Linked DNA regions of Homo sapiens. The protein of the gene in region 2 binds, or shares a complex with, the protein of the main gene of each other region. Each region holds a gene or a part of one and is shown on either strand. Other genes may lie near its edges.

Region 1 (10,732 bases), on a different chromosome or scaffold from region 2:
AGATCTGCCTTGTTCACCATTCTATTCCCCGTGCCGATATGACACAGCAGCTGATCAACCCACCCATCTACCCATCCACCCATTCCTCCCTCCCTCCCTCCCTCCCTAGGTAAATACCCAAGCAAGACTGCATCACTGGCTTCCAGAATCTCAAATAGCAGTTCTGGTCACGTAATACAAAGTATGGTTAGTTACACTACTCCAAAACGCCTCCATCTGTGCAAGTTCCATTCTTTGCATCTAGGAGAGATATTTTTAAATCACTTAGCTCATTTATAACATGATGCAAATCCCACAATCTCAGATGTTTTATGTTCTTTTACGTTAATTCAGCTTAGAGGCCAAGATGAATACAGTGGAAATGTACCATACTTCCATTCAATTTGCAGGATTTCATCTATTATCTTCAGCAACGGGAAGGAGAGAAAGAAATGATTCATATAGATGATTCTATGAATCATGATTCATGATTCTGCATACCTCCACTCAATAACTTCTTGCTTCACAGTGGGCACAGAATAGGAGATGGTCAGCTGCTGTTCTATGTCTCAGTTCTCACATGCCTCACACCCAAGCAGTTCACGTCACCTGTGCTCAAAATAACAAACGCCATGCAGTTCCAACATGGAAAAACAAGATCTGGCCGTATGGGGCTTCCTGAGAGACCCACCGCTTGTCAGTCTCTGATATGACTCCCTCTTGGGGTACTTTGAGGGTACTCAATTTTCACCTTATTCATTTAGATACAGACCCTATTTAGAGAAACATTACTATATACTGGGATGGGCTGCTTTACTTGACCCTGGAATTTCTTTCCAAGAAGGCACATTTAGGTAATTGTAGCTCACAGTGCCAGAACTGCCACGACGAAAAAGCCCAACCCTCTGTTTCTCTTTCTGTTGTTGGTGAATGTCTAAATGAGGAGAGTGATCATAAGTACATACAGATTAAAAAATGTTAAAAAGAAAAGTAAGGGGAAGGAACAGTGCCTAAGACCTTCCTGTATACAGTGAGTGCTAAGTTACTGCTATGAATTGTCAGACAATCAGCTCCAGCCTAGAAAAGAAAAATCTAATCCCCTATCACAATATACAAAACAATAATATGAACGAAGTCTACAAATATCTAGATAATGTAGAAATTCTAACTTTATTGATCAGTTTTATATCAATATGTGTGTGAGGTAATAAGTGAAATAAATAACAGAGAAAAATGATCACTTCCAGCTTCTATAATACTGTCTCCACTATCATGAGAATGTCTCTTCTCAGACCCACTTCAGCTCCAAAGAACTCCTCCTAAAAAGCACAAGGGCCTTGTGTACGCTGAAATATATTCCCTTTTCTTCTTCACATAACTGACTGATGCAGGTAAATTCTTGTAAGTTAAATGCGCAAAAGACAGGATTCCACTTAGGTAAAGGCTGAGTAGATGATGGCCTTCTTTATTAATTTGCAATTAACTGTCATCTCAATTTCTCTTGGTTAGGTGTCAAGAAGGATATAGAGTCATGAGAGATTTATTCTTTTTTTTTTTTTTTTTTTAAGAGCAGGAAGTAACTGGAAGCGTCTTGCTGAACTGCAACGGAAAAAACAAAGGTTAAAACACCCCAGCACCACTGCCACCTTTCCTGGAGGGCAACTGCTTCTCCTCCATTCCAACCATGTGATTTTGGTGGTGCTGCCAATCAAGTACCCTATCTGCCTAGCTAGCGGAGCAGAAGAGTAGGCACATCACATTCTTGGGTCCTATGTGGCCAATCAAGGTACTTCTGGAATTTCTCTTTATTCTAGGGTGCTTAATCTTGGATGGCATAACACAGGAGTCATCTGCAGTCACATCTTTTATGCATTTATATACAGTCATGTGCCCCAAAAAGACGTTTTGGGTCAACGACAGACCACATATACAACCATGGTCCCCTAACATTACACATAATGGAGCAGAAAAATGCCTGTAGCCCAGTGATGTCACAGCTGTTGTAATGAATGCATTACTCATCTGTCTGTGGTGATGCTGATGTAAACAGACCTACCGCACTGCCAGTAGTATAAAAGCTAAGCACATACAATTATGTGCAGTACATAATACTTGATAATAAACTATGTGCCAGTTTATGTATTTGCTATCCTATACTTTTTATCTTTAGAGTGTACTCATCCACTTATTTAAAAATTTAAAAATTAGCTGTAAAACAGTTTCAGGCAGGTCCTTCAGGAGGTATTCCAGAAGGCACTGTTATCATAAGAGATGACAGTTCCCTATGTGTTACTGCCTCTAAAGACATTCCACCGGGACCTTCCTGACTCTGTGTAGGCCTAGAGTAATGTGTGTGTTTGCGTCTTCGTTTTTAAAGATTAAAATTTTTTGAAATAGAAAAAAGCTAACAGAATAAGGATATAAAGAAAATATTTTTGTACAGCTAATTGTACAATGTGTTTGTATTTTAAGCTAAGTTTTATCACAAAGAAGTTAAAAACTTTTTTAAATTAAAAAGTTTATAACATAAAAGTTACATTACAGTAAGCTAAGGTTAATTTATTATTGGAGAAAGAAAAAATTTTTAATAAATTCAGTGTAGCCTAAGTGTACAGTGTTCAAAAAGTCTACAGTAGTGTACAATAATGTCCTAGGCCTTCACACTCACTCACTACTCACTGCCTCACCCACAGCAACTTCCAGTCCTGCAAACTCCATCCATGGTAAGTGCCCCACACAGGTTCACATTTTTCAATCTTTTAAACTGTATTTTTACTGTACCTTTTCTATGTTTAGATATACAAATACTTGGCCATTGTGTTACAACCACCTACAGTATTCAGTACAGTAACATGCTGTGCTGGTTTATAGCCTAGCAGCAACAGGCCATCCCACATAGTCTAGGTGTGTAGCAGACTACACCATCTAGGTTTGTGTAAGTACACTATGATGCATGCACAATGACAAAATTTGCCTAACCACACATTTCTCAGAACATATCCCCTAACTGTCCCATGACTGTAACAGGAAGAATGAGGCTTGCAATTACAGTTGCAGAGGAGATAGGGAACTGGGGGTTACTGGTCCTTTGCAGAAAGGGAGAGAGACACAAGTACTCCATCACTGGAGTCACTGGATTTAGTGATATAGTGATACCCCAGCCCCTTCCAGGTTTGGAGCCAATAAATCCCTTTTAGCTTAAGCCCATTTGAATTTTCTGTCACTTGCAACAGAAATATCTTTGACTAAAAAAGTATAATTGCTATTACAGTAAACCTAAGAAATTCATAACAGTGAAAAATCCAACGCAAAGCTATATTTCCTTGCTAAAACACAGAACACATTTAATAATGTCATACAGCGTGAAGATAAGTCAAATATTCATTCAAGATTCAGTTAAGAATACAACAGTTTGATCTTACCACTATGTACCGATGACACCTACAGCTGTGGATCAAGAGAACATACGATCTAAACTCTATGAAAGCTATCAATAGATCCAAAGTTAAACATACTTCATTAAATTCAAAAGATCTTACTTCTCATTCACATACATAACTGACATTTTGTGTCACACTGGTTGAAATGTCAATGGAATAGTGAGATACAGCTAAGAATCACCAACATGTCCCAATATTCTGGAAGACAGAAAACATCCATCTGCTGACAATGGTCCAGATACGAAGCAAATATATTAAATATAAAGAAAAAATCAACATATTACTCTGTTAGAGCTCTGGAAAGAATTTTCTCACAAATGCCTCTTTGACCATATAAAGCCCAGTAGTTCAACGAATTTTTTTTCCATTTATCTTTATTGCATATTCTATGGAACAGGCCAGCTATTGCCAGAGGATTCAATACCTATTCTGTGCTTAAATTTAACCATGAGCAAACCCACGTCTTACACAAACATATGCAGATTCTCCATCCACATTTATATTAGATATACCTCAAACCCACACAGGCAGACATAGACATACACAGACAATTAACATGTAATTGTCTCCCAAATGCAGACATTTGGAGTAAGGTTTAGCACCACAAGCTAACATCCATGCTTGTTTTGCTTGGGTTTTGGGGTTTTTCAGTAGGGGAAAGTAGAGTATGGTAGAGGGTGGATGGTGCAGAGGCCAGAAGCCTTCCTATTCATTCTAACAAGAATCTAAGAAGTGGAGGGGGCCTGCTTATTTAAAGAAGGCTCCCCAGCTAGCTATTCCTGATAACCCACGGCCATGGAACCTCTCACCGATCCTACCTCCTCCCACCCTATCCTCCTGTAAAGCACCCCCATTTTGTACACCCAGACACTCTGAGCAGCTGTTTCCCTCCTTCCCCAGATGCCAAGCACAAAGAACTGGCCAAGGCACAGGAGTAGCCTCGAACTTCAGAGGCCCACCTTTCACCCTGCTGCCCTCACTCTGGTGCACAACTTGCACGCGGAGACAAACTGGAACCAGCCTCACAGGGTGCGCACCGATCCTAAGAGGTGGACACCCCATCTAAGCCTCAGGCTCAGGCACCTTGATATCAGTCCCTGGAGGCTAAAGGGGTCCACACCTGTTTCCCAGGCCCGACAGACCGGCTACACACCTGTTCCGCCCGGGAGTGGGGAGGGGCATGACACCCGCCGCCTAGGCTCACAGTCGGGGGAGCGGGCGCGCCAGTCCCTCAGCCTAATTGCCGCACGACTGTAACAGGACAGAATGAGGCTTGCAATTATAGTCGCAAAGTAGATAGGGAACTGAGGGGTTACTGGCCCTTTGCAGAAAGGGAGAGATACACAAATACATCACCGGAGTCACTGGATTTAGTGATACCTCAGCCCCTTCCAGGTTTGGAGCCAATAAATCCCTTTTTACTTAAGCCCATTTGAATTTTCACATTCATTTGGAACCAGTAAGTGGAAATTGCCCGACCCAGTTCCGGGCCAACGTACGACACGCCCCTCCACTCGAGAATCAACCCCGCCCGGCCCGTGGCTCGGGTCCGGTTAGCCCGTCAGGGGCTGCTCTGTTCGCTCCCCGAGGTCCCGCCGCTGTCGCGCGGGGAGGAGACGCCGAGGCTCAGAGACCTGTCGCGCGCTCTCCTCCTACCCTGAATACGGCCCCTCAATCCTGTCTCCTTCCACGGGCCCGCTCTCTGGAAACTCGTTACCTGAGCTTGCTGCCATTCCGGCCGTGGACCGCCGGCCCACGTGACCGCACCCACTGCTCTAGCCTCACGCACGCGCACTACCTACCACTGCGGGCAGCGCTTCCGCTTTCCTCCTCGCACTGCTCCCCCTCCTGGGCGGTCCGCGCCTCTTCACCACGCCCCTATTTAAAGGGCCAGAGATACGCCGTCTTCCCCCCTACGGAAAAAATGGGTGATTCACATCTTGAGGACCAAGAGAATGGAAACGTCGAAAGAGTAGCGCAGACAAATAAATAACAGTCCTTGAGGTGAGAGGAGAAAGCTCCTCCTTTAAGAAAGTGAACTTACTTGCAGCCAGCCCAGAAGGGAAGTTGATTCCCTGCCTTTTGGAGTTTGCAACCAGTAAATTTTTTTTAACTTTTTTTTTTTTTTAAAAGATGAACTCAGAATTGCCTATTTATTGTGTCAAATAAGTACAATAGGCACACACATACTAAAATACCAACTATTATCTTGTAATATATCATCAGTGTTGCTCCCCAAAATACATCTTAACACCAAAAATACAGGAGAAACATAGTCTCAAATAAAGGAAACATCTGAAAAATGAACAAAAACGTATGCTTATTTCTCTTATCGCTCCTGAAGAAAGGTGAAAGCTTTCAGAACAGACTGGTTTCTAGAGTCATCACTGTACGTAACATTAGCCCCAGGACACAGATTTTAGGCCTGCTGGGGGCTATATAGGTCAAGAAAACAGGAGGAAGAACACCAGAAGATACTCTTGGAAGGAGATACAGAAAATATTCGGTTGGGCAGACATTTTTGAGCATCAGCTAGGTTCACTAGACTTCTGGGCCTTCAGAAGACCCGAAGGTGTTGCCCTGTCCTCCAGGTATTTATTTTCTAAGAATTCAGTGTACAGACATAACAAAATACAAGGCAGGCTGTTTTGAGTAATATAAAGAAAGACATTGAACCACCATTTTCGCACAGACAGGGGGAAAGGGTGAAACACTCAAGGAAGGATGTGGTATCTTGTCAGGGCCTTGAAGGATTTCAGTAGCAGAGAGCAGGGAGAATGCCTAGCTGAGGGAAGGGTGGGATCAAAGGCAGTACAAAGCAAGTTTGGGAACTAGTTATTGGCCTGATGTAGCCGTGGTGTGGCCAGTGGCTTTCAACCTTCTTTTAATCATCCCTCACAGTAAGAAATACATTTCAGGCCAGGTGCGGTGACTCATGCCTGCAATCCCAGCACTTTGGGAGGCTGAGGCAGGTGGTCAGGAGTTCAAGACCAGCCTGACCAACATGGAGAAACCCTGTCTCTACTAAAAATACAAAAATTAGCCAGGTGTGGTGGCATGCACCTGTGGTCCCAGCTACTCGGGAGGCTGAGGCAGGAGAATTGCTTGAACCCAGGAGGCAGAGGTTGCAGCAGTGAGCCAAGATTGTGCCATTGCACTCCAGCCTGGGTAACAGAGTGAGACTCCGTCTCAAAAAAAAAAAAAGATACATTTCAGCCATGGCCTAGTATAAAAACACACACAGTATGCGCATATGTGTGAGTGTGCATTATAGATAGATAGATAGATAGATAGATAGATAGATAGATATGCTGAAACAGTAATTGCCCTTAGAGTGTACAATGCAACTTGGTATTTTCTATTCTATTCTCTTTTTTTAAGTGCTGGTTACTGAATTCATTTCAGTACTCAGTGATGCAGAGCAACCCATAGTTTGAAGACACTGGTGTAGTGTGTATTAGAGATGTGGTGGGCTATGAGGCTGGAAAGGCTAGGACCAGATCCAGGAAGACATTGCACGCTAAGCTGGGGTGTTCTGCTCTTCTGGTGAGAGTCTCCAGAGGAACTCGAGCAGAGGAGTGGCAAGATGATAGCTGTGCTTTAGAAGGCTGGAAACCGGCCTTTGGTTCTGAATATCACATTTTTCTAGTAAAGCTATTAAACTAGAGACTGTCTACAGAAGGATAAGCAAGCTGGTGAGACCAGAAAGCCTGTGTGACAGAGAACTTTTGAAAGTATCCAGAGGAAAAGAAATTAGCAGAAGTAGGGGAGAGCAGGGTCATAGGGGTGAGCAGTGGAAAGGTAGCTATTAGGTTGGTACACAAGTAATTGCGGTTTTTGCCATTACTTTAAAAAACTGACCCTTTTGAAATATCTCTGCAACACTCATAGACTTATTCTGAATAGCTGTAGAAAGAAAGCAAGCCTACGACCTGTGTATGGACGTTGCAGAGAGGCAGATTTCAACTTATAATAAAGAATATTTTAGGATGGTCCAGACTGACTCTGAGACCTCTCCAAAGTAACAGCCCTTTTATGTACCTCTGTTCACAGCAGGAAGTAATCTCAAATGCTATCCTTTCCAGGGCTGTTTGCCTTAATAATAATAAAAAAAAATGTGTGCTTATTGTAGAAAACTTGGAAAATTCAGGAAATATTTTAAAATAAAGCAGAAATTACCCACATCCCAGAAAAAGGCACTTATAGTTTTGGCTTATCCGTTGGATCTTTTTCTTTGTATATTTACATTTGTGACATAATAGAACTGCATAGAATATTTAGTTGTGTATTCTATATATTTATAGGATATATAGTTAATAATCCATCCTCTTTTTTTCACTATTATATCTTGAGCACTATCCACCATCACTAAAATTGTTCACAAATATTATTTGTCATGGCTACATAATTATTAATGATATAGTTTCATGTATTTCATTATTCCACTATTTTTGGACATATACAGGAGTTCCTATTTTTTACTGCTAACAAGAACATTGCCATGAATATCCTTACACATTATCTTTGCCCACATTTTAAAATTATTTCCTTCCTTAGGCTAGCAACCTATAAGTGGAATTACTGATTCAAAGGCTTTGAAAACTCTTAAGTCTGTGAATACCCGTGGTCAAACTGCCTTCCAGAAATGTCAGGCCAGTTTTCATTCTCACCAGAAGCTCTCAGTGGTGCCCATCACACGCACCCCCACTGGCATTTATTTTATCTTAAAAAAAAAAAGATTTGCCAATATGATAGATGAAATGGTCTCTCATTTTAACCTGTATGGGATTACTATTGGAGTGGAATATCTATATAAATTTATCAGCCCTTTATAATTATTCTGGGAATGCAGTTTCACTGCTGGATTTGTGATTGCAAATAGTACTGAGTGAATTGTTACAGACTTGTGAGGAAAAAAAAACAGAGAATGATGTTTAAAATAAATGATGTGGTCACACCAAGTTATAGGCAAATTATATTGTGGTGTGCTGCACTAACAAAGGGTAGTGGGAGAATTGAGTCATCACACAGTATTACAATATTCATGTGAATATTGGCTCCAGCAAAATATCATTCCTTATATTAAATCAAAATTGTAGATTTGCATTTCCTCATTTGGTAGTTTTGTTTGTATTCAATTTATTTTTTTAGTTTTATAGATGCATAAAATCTATAAAAATCAGGAGCTCTTAGTTTTGTGTTTGCATATATACATACACATATATGTATGCAACATTATAAAAAATTATAAGCTAACTCTAGATATCTGTGAGAATCTTTTCCCCTTACAAAGGATCTGAACGATATCCAAGTTTGAGAAACAGTGATACTGGAATTTCTTAAAGTTTCATTTGTACTTATCTAAACACAGGTATTGAGATTTTTTTGCAAGGCAAAATTTGCATCAGCTTATATATTGGAATTTTTCCATATAGAATAGTGTAATGATTTTCTTCTTTTTGGAAAGAGTACCAAAAGCTCTACTATGTTTGGGGTTCAGAGAGTATGTTTTGACTTAAAATGTACCATTCATCAGTTAACTTTCTACAGGTCAGTAAGACCTAGACAGAAGAATGTTTGTGTTTACTAAACTTGTAAGTAAGAGAAAGCAGTTGAGCAGATAGTGATTACAATGGAGCTTTTGTGAAGTGGTCTTAAGAGAAATTAAGCCAATGAGAAAAAAGGTTGCATGTGAGCTCTCAGAGCCTTGGGAAGCAGTGAGGGCTGGCCTGCGGGGTGCACAGGAGCTAGAAGAGGGCGCCACTGAGGGCTGCCACAGTTGGATGGTGTCCTTACACCGGCTCTATTGCCTCCAGCTCTCCCCAAGAGTGAAGGATGCAGACCTCGACCCAGACATCACTATTACCCCTGCATCTAGAATAAGCCACATCTCTTCTGAAGGAAAAAAATGTCTGTTCCTGAGAGCAAAAGGCAGAGAATAGGAGATGGATGCCTTTGTCATTTCTTTTTTGCTCACAATCACAAAATAAACTGGCCTCTTTTCCTTTTTTAAAAAGGGAACTTGTTGGAGCACAGAGAACTTTTAGGGCAGTGAAATGATTCTGTATGATGCTATAATAGTGGAAACATCATAAATTTGTCCAAAGCCACAAAATGTACAACACCGAGAATGAACCCTAAGGTAAACTGTAGATGTGGATGATAATGATGTAATGATGTGTCAGTGCAGGTCCATCAGCTGTAACTAATGTAGCACTCTGGTGGAGGAGACCATCTGTGCCTGGGGCAGGCAGTGTATGAGAAGTCTCTGTACCTTCCTCTCAATTTTGCTGTGAACCTAAAATCACTCTAAAGAATCAAGCTTATTAAAATAATTTGGCCGGATGAGGTGGCTCACGCCTGTAATCCCAGAACTTTGGTAGGCCAAGGAGGATGGATCACCTGAGGTCAGGAGTTTGAGACCAGCCTGGCCAACATGGCGAAAGCCCGTCTCTACTAAAAATACAAAAATTAGCCCGGCGTGGTGGCACCTGCAATCCCAGCTACTCAGGAGGCTGAGGCAGGAGAATCGCTTGAACCTGGGAGGCGGAGGTTGAAGTGAGTCGAGATCGTGCTACTGCACTCCAGCCTGGGTAACAGAGCGAGACTCTGTCTCAAAAAAATAATAAATAATAATGAAAATAATAATGATTTTAAAAGCCAAAACCAAAACCTGGTGTACAGGGTTTTTAATCTAAAAATCAGGAGTCTTTAGTTTTGTGTTTGCATGTATACATATGCAAACTTCATTGAGTCAAAATGTCCAAGCAGGCTGGAGAGGCATAAAATTGGTTCTCTGTAAGTGATTCAACCTAGTCCAGCTGTCACTCTCATGTTCCCTCTGCCTGGGGTGTTCCTCTCTCAAGATAACCACTTGGCTCACTCACTCACCTTCTTCAGGGCTTTGCTCAAATGTCACTGCATTAGTCAGGGCAATAAATACAAGGAAGATGAGGAGCAGTTCTCTTCTCCACTCAGTTCTCGGGAACCCAGTTTCTTTCCATCTGGTGACACTGTTTTCTAAACACATGGCCTCTAAATGCTCTGAGGCAGAAGAGAGGGGTGCAGAAAGCCCACTGACTCTGAATTGCCTTGGCCTGAAAGTGACATGCGCCCCTTCGGCTCACAGTCCATTGGCCAGCACCAGCCACCCAGCCCTGCTTTATTACGACAGAGGCCAGGGAGTGTAGAGGAGCACAGAATTCTAGGGAGTATAGCTGGCTCCTGCCACAGTCACCTCCGGGAAGTCTTCCCTAGCCACTCTCATCCTCCCCACATTCTGTCACCACTCTCCTATGCTTTATTTTTTTCTA
Region 2 (11,014 bases):
GAGCGAAACTGGGCCACCCCGGCAGTGAACTGTGGTAAATGTGGGCACGCTGCATAGCAGACATTCCCGACATTAATCTGGGAATCCTGAGCTCTGCTTGTTGCTTGGTCACTTCCTGATGATCTTAGGCAACTCACTAAGAGGCTTTGTCTGGGCCTGTGTTCTCTATAAAACAGAAATTTGGACTGGGCTGTGTGCTTCTCCTATACCATTCTCCAGCTACTTCTGGATGAAGAGGAAGGGAATGGAGGTCTTGAAAGGTGGAAGAGTCATGCTGGTAAGTAGAGAGCTGGGATTCCAACCCAGGTAGTCAGCTCCAAAGCACACATCCTTAATCAGATGCCACACTGGCTCCCAAGGCCAATGCTGCCCCAAGCCTGGATGATGGATGGCACCCATAGGCTGCAGCCCTGGCTGACACCCTGACTGCCCCCTCAGGAGAGCCCCAAAACTGGGTTTGGTGGGATACTGCACACTCGATATAGCATTATCCTTTCGTTCTTACCTTGACGCTGAGAGGTGGACATTATTATGGAGATACAGAGATCTTAGGTGGCTTGCTCAAGGTTACCTGGCTACAAGGTGATGAAACAGGGCTTTGACCCTAGTTTTTGTTCGTGACTCCAAGGCCATATTCTTATTGATTGAGGGGAACAAGTATGATTTCAGATCCTCTCCTAGAATTCAGTTCTGAACAAAGCAACAACTCTCAGCAGGAGGCCACTATGGTACTTAGAGTGGCATGCTGCTGCAGTTCCTGAGGAGTCTTTGCTATTGCTTCCCCACCGTGAGTCTAGAAGAGGAATCCTGTGGCTCTATCTGCTTGCTGAAATTCAGACACAGAATAGTATGTTGACACAGTTCTCTACTAACATAGTAATCTACCAAAACAGGATACACATTTATGTGACAGCAACTGCTTTTCCTGAGCTGCACCCCATGCTGGTCCCGTGTTCTTCTCTAAGTCCCACAGCCATCTGTTGAATGACTCAATCTTGAAATTTGTCAGGAATCAACAATAAATTTACTGGCTTGTACAAAAGTCAACTTTTCCCCCCTTTGAAAATGAAGATACTGCTTGACAACCATTTTATGTTATCTTTTGCACTCATGCAACAGAGACAGCAAGATTAGTTATAGTGCAATGAACCTGCTCTGATAATCTGCAAGAGTATCTAAAAAAAGAGGATTAAAAAAAGACAGTTAAGGTCTAATATCTAACTTGTCATCTTAATATTATCATGATGTATATTTAATATATGTAACTATTCATAGTTGGTATCCTTTTTACTGGGCAATACTAATCAAAATTATTTAAATACATATAAACATATATTTATATACACACACATATATACACATACTATATATGGTGTGTGTATACATACATATGCATAAGGGTGTATGTGTGTGTGTATGTACATATATATAATATACATCCTATAAGAGTACCATCAGCAGTTAGAATTAAAAGGGTTTAGGAAGAGAAGTGGGAGGTAGAAGAAGAGCAGAATAGAAATATGGCATTTACTTCATAACATCTTCCTCAATACTGAACCTTCAAACAGCCACAAAAAATTATCGAGTACTGGCCAGGAGCAGTGGCTCATGCCTATAATCCCAGCACTTCGGGAGGCCGAGGCAGATGGATTGCTTGAGCTTAGGAGTTCAAAACCAACCTGGGCAACATGGTGAAACTCTGTCTCTATAGAAGAATACAAAAATTAGCCGGGCATGGTGGCATGTGCCTATAGCCCCAACTACTTGGGAGGCTAAAGTGGAAGGATCACTTGAGCCTGGAAGATGGAGGTTGCAGTGAGCCGAGAACACGACACTGTACTGTAGCCTGGGTGACAGGGTGAGACCCTGTCTCAAAAAAAGAAAAAAAAAATTATTGAGTACCTACAGGACTTGATAGTCCATAATATCCAGTCAGTTGTCATCTTTAAATATGTGATTTTTTCCTTAAATCTTTAACTTTTTCAACAGCAGTTACTTGACTATCAAGAAAAGATCTTGATTTCAAATCATCTGCAAGATTTCATAATTCACTTTTCATGAGGCACTTAAAGTCATTTGGGGTAGCACCAAATTAAGTTGTTACTCTACATTCATTTAGTAGGTATTTATTTTTTTAAATAAAGAAAAACGAGTCAGGTTTGCTACAGAGATGAGTTGTAAAGTCTGAGCCAAATTATTCGGCAGTATCCAAACACCTGGCTGCCACAAATGACTACTTTAATGTATTTCTAATGAGGGCTGGATTCAGACCAAGATGAAGACACTTAACCCATTAAGTAAAATTTCTTCAAGTTTTCTTAAAAGATCACAAATTTGTAATATTAGCATGAAGGAATAAGCCAAATAACTTCATTTTTTTTTTCCTAACAGAAATGTTAGCTGCATATCAGACCCAGAAAATACAGCAAGTTTTTTGGCTGGGCGCAGCGGCTCAGGTCTGTAATCCCAGCACTTTGGGAGGCCAAGACAGGAGGATTGCTTGAGGCCAGGAGTTTGAGAACAGCCTGGGCAACACAGGGAGACCCCTATCTCTACAAAAAAAATTTTTTAAATTATCTGGGTGTGGTAGTGCGAGCCTGTGGTCCCAGCTACTTGAGAGGCTGAGGTGGGAGGATCCCTTGAGTCTGGGAGATCAAGACTGCAGTGAGCCATGGTCACACCACTGCACTCCAGCCTGGGTGACAGAGCAAGACCCTGTCTCAAAAACAACAGCAAAAAAACCACCCAGAAGACAACAACAAAAAGAAAATATAGCATTTTTAAAATAGTGAGCTCTATGCTTTTAAAACTCCTCAACTGGAGCTGCCTAAATGAAGAATGGGCCCTTTACAAATCCCTGTCTCTGGAGGGTTTAAGCTGAGGTTAGATTGGTCCTGGGATTCCTGCAGTGGTGAAAACGCTCTGCCTCCAATGCTATGACAAGAGGACTGCCATGCACAATCATGAGTGTAGAAGAAAAGGCAGAGTGAATGAAGGCTAACAGTGGCACCTCACCTCTCACCCAATTCAATTGTGTAATGCAAACCTTGATGCACATAGCAAATTGGAATTCAGAACCCACAAGTCTAACTCCAGAGTAAATCATTTGTTAGGTTAACAATTACTCAAAACATAAAACTACATATTTTCAGAGCTGAGGGAGACCTGGCTCTACATCCTCATTTATATTTGTCAGCAATAATTTATTGAGCACCTACTAAATGCCAGACCCTGTGCCGGATCCTTTCCAGGCACAATTTCTTATTAGAATTCATGTGCCTTTTCTAATATTATCCCTATTTTGATGGAGGAATTTGAGACTCAGAATGTCCAGCAAATTGCCCAAAGGTCACAGGAAATGGCAGAGGCAGGATTTGAACCCACACTCCACATTCATTACCACCACAGAGCATCACTCCCATTTCATAGATGACCTGGGGCAGGCTAGTTATGGACAGGTTCCAGCAGATTCCAGCCAGTAGACTTTCTAGTACTCCAGGCAGCGTTTTGCTACACATCACAGAAGCAGCTGCAATGACTGTTGAGGCTGCTCGGCTGGCAGAAATGGAAGGAAAAAGAAAAGGAAGCAGCTGACCAAATGTTCCTTCTGACTGACCATGGAACTGCGAGCTCTCAGTTGTCTGCCAGCTTCCGGCTGACCAACAGAGAGAAGCATGTCCACCATGAGAGAGTAGCAGCCACCACACAGTCCCTCTACATTCGTTCATCCTGACTCCAACCAAGCCAACACACACAACGCAGTAGGATCTTCCCTGCACACCTTCTCAGTGCCTTAACTTGCCACCACAATCACACCCGCAGCTGCCTTCCTTCCTGATAGACAAGGTGCTTGCCCATGAGCACTTCATCAGTGATTAAACTCTGCTCAGACATGTTTTGACCACAGCTGCGCGTGCAGTCCACGTGCAGTAAGGCCTGCTGTGTGATCTGTGAGCCCCCATTTTTAGCAGCCAGGTAGGAGGCTTCCTGAGGGTCACTCAACAGTCCTTGGGTAGAAGCCACGGCAGGTGCAGACAACCGGACAGCTTCCGTGTTTAAGGATATCAACACTTAACACAGGGAGGCAGGCGGACTAACTTGCACCTGCACCTCCAGAAGGCAATGGAAAGAAAACAATTCCACAGGGATGACAGCTTCCAGCCCTTGACCTGGTGCTAAAAACAGGGGCCAGGAAGCCCAGCACAGCACTTTTCCCTACTCCCCAACACACCCCTGCCTACTCTCCAGATCAGGACAATTCAGGCCTGAGTGTGACCCGAATTTGAGCTCTCAAATCCAAAGAGCTCCCAGAAACCTCAATCACAGCGCCAAAACCATTCCATACCAGGGATGGAGGTGCAAGTCCTTCCTGGCCCTTCTCCCCGGAAAACCCAAATCAAGGACGAGGTCTCTCAGGTCTTCCCTTGCCCTAAACACACACGCACTCCTCACACACAACATACACACTTGACCCCACACCCGTGCACACTTCATCCCACACACACGTGAACACTTATTTGCTCACCCCAGCAGGCTAGCCGGCCCCCACAAGGGACAGCTACCAAGTCGCACACCCGCACACCTGCCCCCAAGTGTATAGCCACTTGCTCCCCCCACCCCGCGTTCCAGCCCCCACTACACCTGCCCCAGCGCACACGCACGGGCTCGCCCTCCACCCCGCCCCGCCGCCTACCCCCCACTCCTGCTCCCCGCCCTCCTGCCCCACGCGCCCCGCGCCCTGAGCCCCGCACCCCGCGCCCCGCCGCCCTCCTCACTCACCGGCGCCGGCGCCCGCCGTCCCGCGCCGCCCCGCGGCCTGGGGCCCCGCCGCCCCGCTCCGGCCCGCGGCTCCTGGGCTGGCCCGACCCCGCAGCCGCCGCTTCCCGTCACGTGGGGCGGCCGCCAGGCGCTGGCGGAGGGCGGGAGCGCAGCCGTCTCCGCGCCGCCCGCCGGCCCGCGGGCCCTGCCGCCTGGCTCCGAGCACAGGCCGAGACGGGCCCTGCTCCGGGCCTCGGCGTCCCCCTCCGTGCACCGGGGCCACGACACGGCCCGCCTCGCGGGGCGGCCAGCGGGCGGAAGGTGTTCATTCGGGGGGCGCTGAGGCCGCCGGCCCCGGGCGAGAGCGTGGTCCGCGCCAGCTGTGCGAGCCCGCGGGGCTGAGGTCTCTTCTCCGCCCCCGCCGCTGCGGGGAGCTTCAGGGAAGCCGGGCTTTGCCTGGCTCGCTCGCCACCCAGTTTCTGTCACCTACACAGGAGGAGGGCGCCCGGGAAATACCTGCTGCGTGAATGAATAAATGAATGAAATGCTTGGGCCCTGGGAAATGCTTGGGCCCGCGGCCGCCTGACCACGCGGGCTGGAGGATCGGACGTACCGCCGGTGCCCCACCAGGAGACGAAGGCATGGTTGGGATGCGCAGCCCTCCCACGAGGCCCATGGCGCCCCAGGGCCCTAGGGATTGACCGGGACCCCCGACTGGCAGAGTCCACCTGCTTGATACACTTATTTGAGAAGGGAGGCCTGGGACTATCTTACTCCTTTTAGGAAAACCCAACTGTAGCTGCTATTCCTTTGGTTCAGGCCGCAAGGAAGAATTGTAGGTTACCATGAATCCATGAACCCCTCTTTAGTATACAAAGTCCACTTTCATGACGGAAGAATTGGAAAGCTCCCTCCAGAGTTGTCAGTACTCAATTATTAGCATATAAAAAGTCAAATTTTCCCAGGGATTTTCAGACTTTAGAACCTGCTAGTGACCTGTGGCCTCAGCTTTCTTCCAGCCACTCTGAGTATTGTAAAACAAAGATATTATCCCAACCCTGAAGGCAGATACCAGATTGTACGCCATGGTCTTCTGTTTCAAAGGGATAAAAAAAGAAAGAAAAGAAACTGGCCAAAAAAAAAAAAAAAAAAAAAAAACCCAACAATCTTCCTGTGACTTGCCCTCTACCCCTACCCTAGTGTGACTCATGGCCACATAAATGCCCCATCCCCAGTGGTGCTTCAGCTGTGACCCAGTGGAACCAGTGTCACCGGCTCAGCCTCCAGGTAGGGGACTGGCTTCCCAGGAGTGTAAAGCTCTGACCAGCAATTGAGCTTCAAGGGCAAGCAGCAGTGAATGGACCTTCAAGTCTAAGGTGGCCAACAGCTAGTGGAGCCAGGGATTGGGAAGGTACAAGAGCAAATCCAGTCTCTTCATTTTACCCAGGCTCACAGAGACTATGTGACTTGTCATCAACTAATCACTGGCTCAGGTGGTCCTAGAATTCACCCTTGTGCTTTTGTATCTTAGTCCTCTACCAGATCACATCACAGAGAGCTGCACAAGACTAGTTACAGAGGTGATATCTACTGACTGCCAGACAGTGACTTCAGAAACTGCTAGTGACTGAGCAATGAAGTAGACGCTATTAATTTACTTAATAGCGTCAAAGAATAAATTTAATTCTTTGAGGCAAAGAAAGGTGAATGACTTCCTGTGTTAATTCACTTAGGAAAATATAAATAAAAAAATTTAAAAAGGTGACTTGTCCCAAACCCCATGCTAGTAAGAAAGAGCAACAATAAGAATCCAGAATTCAGCAACAGTAATTCTTTTTATATAAAGTTGTTTTGAATGAATAGTTTATGAACAATCTTTGTGTTCTACTTTAGATGATCCAGGAGTGAAAATGTATAACAAGAGATAATTCAGATATATTTATTTTATGAAAGGATTTATTACAGGATTCTTACAATGGCAAGCTCCATATTATTCCATCTAGAAACATCTGTTCCTTCTGAAACTTGATGAGAAGTCTGTGTCACAAATGACAGGCACCTCCATGTAAATGCCTGTACCATAAATGTGCAAATATATGCACAGGCCAAATTCCTTATGTTGTTTCTATTGGTTACATTTAAGAAGAAATATCAACCATATGGCTTTCAAAACAATTATTAACTTCATTTTTAAATATTTATTAAATATTCCTTGGGCCCATACCGAGCGTTACTTTACAGAATGTGAAAAAGATGTGCTCCGATGAGAACAATTAATGAAGACTGAGTTGCATCGATATAACTGAATATTTTCATAGTTGCTGTCTACTCTCAAAACTTAGTATTTTTATGCTTACACATACTCTGTGCTTCTCACTTTCTCGCTGGGTATACGCTTGGGAGGGCAAGGATTGTGTCTATGCTCTCTGCTGTATCTTTCTGCATGTAGAAAACACTCAACCAATTTTTAAAAATTCTTGATGCTCAATATTGAAATATTAACTAGATTACTTTTTTTTTTTTTTTTTAGACAGTCTCTTTTGCCCAGGCTGGAGTGCAGTGGTACAATCTTCTCAGCTCACTGCAACCTCTACCTCCCAGGTTCAAGCAATTCTCCTGCCTCAGCCTCCTAAGTATCTGCGACTACAGGCATGCACCACCACGCAGGGCTAATTTTTGTATTTTTAGTAGAGACAGGGTTTTACCATATTGAACAGGTTGGTCTTGAACTCCTGACCTCAAGTGATCCACCCACCTCGGCTTCCCAAGGTGCTGGGATTACAGGCATGAGCAACCACATCCAGCCTTTAGTACTAAGATTCCATTATTCTAATATATAAGCTATTTAAGAGCACACATGTAGGATGGTTGGTGTCATTTTAGAATATAAGCAAAGAAAGGTTACATTTTTTATTTTTTTTAAAGCAACAGCTTACTATGTGCCATGTTTTAAGAGCTTTTACATGTAATAGCTCATTTAATCACATATACACACACATTCATATACTTGTAATCTAGCTTCAGTAAAATAAACTTTTTTGAACTATTGTTCAATCAACTACTTCTTTAGCAGCTCCTATGTGCCAGGTACTATGCCAGAGGCTTCAGCAGATACTGAAATGAGGAAGACAGTCTCTACCCTCAAGAGTTTAATGGGCAATGGTTTATAAGGTAGAGTTGGTAGCCAGCAGTATCAACATCACCTCTGGACTTGTTAGAAATGCAAATTTTGGTGTCCCCATCCCAAACCTCCTAAATCAGAAACTCTGGGGTTAGGACCCAGCAAACTATTTTTACAACCCCTCCAGAGGATTCTAATGGGCACACAATTTTGAGGACCACTGGATTAGTGTGGTATGTGCAAGAAAAACCCACCTAACGAGATCATAAGGCAAAAAATAATGTGCTCTAGAAGTTTGGTGATAGTGGAGCTCAGTTGGGAAGTATCTGAGGATGGGGAAAGGTTCATTCATCTGTATTCATTCAGCACACACTTACTGTTCTTGTGCTGTTGTAGCAGGCACTGAGAACCCAAAGATGAAAGGTAACCTATGAGTGCTGTCATCATCTGAATGTGTACCTCCAAAATTTGTATGTTGAAACCTAACCCTCAAGGTGATGGTATTTGGAAGTGGGGCCTCTAGGAGGTAATTCTATCATAAGTGTGGAAACTTCATGAATTATTGCCCTTATAAAAGAAGCCTAAGAGAGCCTGTTGCCCCATCCACCATGTGAGGACACAACGAGAAGGTGCCATCTCTGATGAATGGATCTTCACTACACACAATCTGCCAGCACCTTGATCTTGGACTTCCCAGCCTCCAGAATTGAGAGAAATGCATTCTGTTGTTTATAAACTACTCAGTGTATGGTATTTTGTTATAACAACTTGAAATGACTAAGACAATGGATTTAAAAGCAAGCTAGTAGTTTAACTGTTCTAAATAGCTAACAACACAGGTCCAAAATGTGAAATGTTGCTTAAATTATTACCTTCACATTGAAGCTCCTTTATGCTCATGTGTATGTATATACTATATATATACATTTTTTTTTTTGAGGCGTCTTGCTCTGTCCCCTAGAGTGCAGTGGTGCGATCTTGGTTCACTGCAACCTCTACCTCCCGGGTTCAAGCGATTCTCCTGCCTCAGCCTCCTGAGTAGCTGGGATTACAGTCACCCACAACCATGCCCAGTTAACTTTTGTTTTTTTTTAGTGGAGATGGGGTTTTACCATGTTGGCCAGTCTGGTCTCGAACTCCTGACCTCAAGTGATCCACCCACCTCAGCCTCCTAAAGGGCTGGGATTACAAGTGTGAGCCACCACGCCCAGCCTGTTCAAGTATATTTTTGATACAATATTTTGATACAATATTTATAACATATTTATAACATATCTTAACTATTACATTATCAACAAGAATCAACACCAAGAGTCCTCAGTATATATTTTGTTCATCATGCATTCATTCCACAAACATTTACTGAGCACTTACTAAGTACAAGCACTGTGCAGGCTAATGGCTAAGTGAGGGATTCTAAGAAAATGTACGGACCCTGTCCCAGAGGAACTCACAATCTAGTGAGGTGACAATGCCAGGCATTGCAGTGTTTGTTGGTTCCCCACAGCTTTGTTCTTGTCAACTATAGTCACCAAATAAAAATGTTAGTGAATAAAACCTCAGGATCTTTGAGTGAAGCAACAATCCTTATAGTTAGCTTAAAATGTTGAGTGCGTTATGGTTACAGATGATAGTGTAGCGGGAGTAACCTTAGGCCTGCAAACTCAAATGTGTAACAAAGATAATTTTTTTTTCTGTAACTGAAATGTATTTCTATTTGAAGCCTCCATTTACCTGCAGTGACAATAATCTTATCAACAGGAGGCCCTCCTCCTTTCTTTCAATTTGAAACCTCCATTTATCTGCAGTGATATTCTTATCAACGGGAGGCCCGGCCCTTTCTCCAGGGCTTTGTCAAGATTGGGGAGACTTCTGAAGTGCCAAGATGAGAAGAGAGAGACCTTAGGTCCTTGTGTCACTGGTCCCCACACAAGTTCAGAGATGTTCTTTGTCCACTGTAGTGTTGGTTTTCAGTCTTTTGGTTTCAGGCTTGAGGGTTAGAGATGTCTGTGACTTCAATTCCCATGTGGTATGGCAGAATTCTCTGTGAGGCAGCCCTTCTGCCTGGACATACTTGAAGCATCACCTCAGAACTTGTTAGAAATGCAAATTATAAGGCCTCCCCATCAACCTCCTAAATCAGAAAGTCAGCAGACTGCAAATTCTCCAATGTTCCATGCTACAAATGTTCTGCCCAGGAAGGAGTGGGCAGGCATCACCACTCTCTCCTTCCCTTGGAGGAGAGACGGTATGTGAATCTCATTCTAGTTCCTCCTCTCTTAATCTTGATTTTTTTTCCTCAGATGACAATCCTTCCATCTCAAGAGTTCTGCTTCAGAGTCACCTAGAATAATATTAATAGAATTAGTTATAAGCAAGGAAGTACTCTTAGTTTTAAACTGGGAAGTACTGGAAGAAAAAAAAGACATCTTACCTGCCACAAAACATTTTTGCAGATGAAGTTTAAGGCTTCAGGTTAGGCGATGGGTTCAGAAAACCACAGAGAGGAAAAGCATAGCAAGAACCTGTAACCACTTTTTCAGACTATTAAACTCAAGGTTCTTCCCACTTATGCCATCATCCTGCCACTTTTTTCCTTTGATGACAATCAATAGGATACAAGAACTCTCCAAGGAGAGCCCACAGAGGAGGCATTTTACACACTTGAGCTCCAATCCTCACAACACTGTGAGATGGCTTATAATTTCCATCTCAGAAGGGAGGAAGCTACAGCTAAAGAGAGAATGTATGTCCTAGGTGAGTAAAGAAGCCAAGGTTATAATACAACTGAGCTACTCCAAAGCCTGCCCTTTTCTCTAAACTGCCTTCTATGACCCATAACTTTGTAAAAATCAGCTACCAGTTCTTAAACACTTACTGTGTCAAGTGTGTTTATAATCTCCATAATCTCCACTCCTTTGATCATTCTTCACAGAAAGTGCTAACACAGCATTTTCCTGATGAGGGGACTGAGGCTGAGAAACTAACTCACCCAAGGTTTTGGTGCAACAAGAGTAAAACTTGAAATGAAGTCAGGTTTCTAGCCCCGGATTCTCCCAAGGTAGCTGCTTTTGATACTAAAACAATGTGCCTCCCGGTGAAGGAAATGGGGATAATACTAATCACACTTATTTC

The links.
Region 1: TGFBRAP1 (region 2) and VPS8 share a complex: the UniProt entries of both Homo sapiens proteins name them as parts of the putative class C core vacuole/endosome tethering (CORVET) complex.

The regions. Positions count from the first base shown.
Region 1 is NC_000003.12:184,806,630-184,817,361, reverse strand, and holds the start of VPS8 (vacuolar protein sorting-associated protein 8 homolog), read right to left. Parts: upstream 5,197-10,732; 5' UTR 5,137-5,196; exon of another isoform or gene 5,076-5,136; intron 4,856-5,075; exon of another isoform or gene 4,573-4,855; intron 3,618-4,572; exon of another isoform or gene 3,495-3,617; intron 1,579-3,494; exon of another isoform or gene 481-1,578; intron 241-480; exon of another isoform or gene 1-240. UniProt on the Homo sapiens protein: Plays a role in vesicle-mediated protein trafficking of the endocytic membrane transport pathway.
Region 2 is NC_000002.12:105,324,846-105,335,859, forward strand, and holds the start of TGFBRAP1 (transforming growth factor-beta receptor-associated protein 1), read right to left. Parts: upstream 4,891-11,014; 5' UTR 4,780-4,890; intron 1-4,779. UniProt on the Homo sapiens protein: Plays a role in the TGF-beta/activin signaling pathway. It associates with inactive heteromeric TGF-beta and activin receptor complexes, mainly through the type II receptor, and is released upon activation of signaling.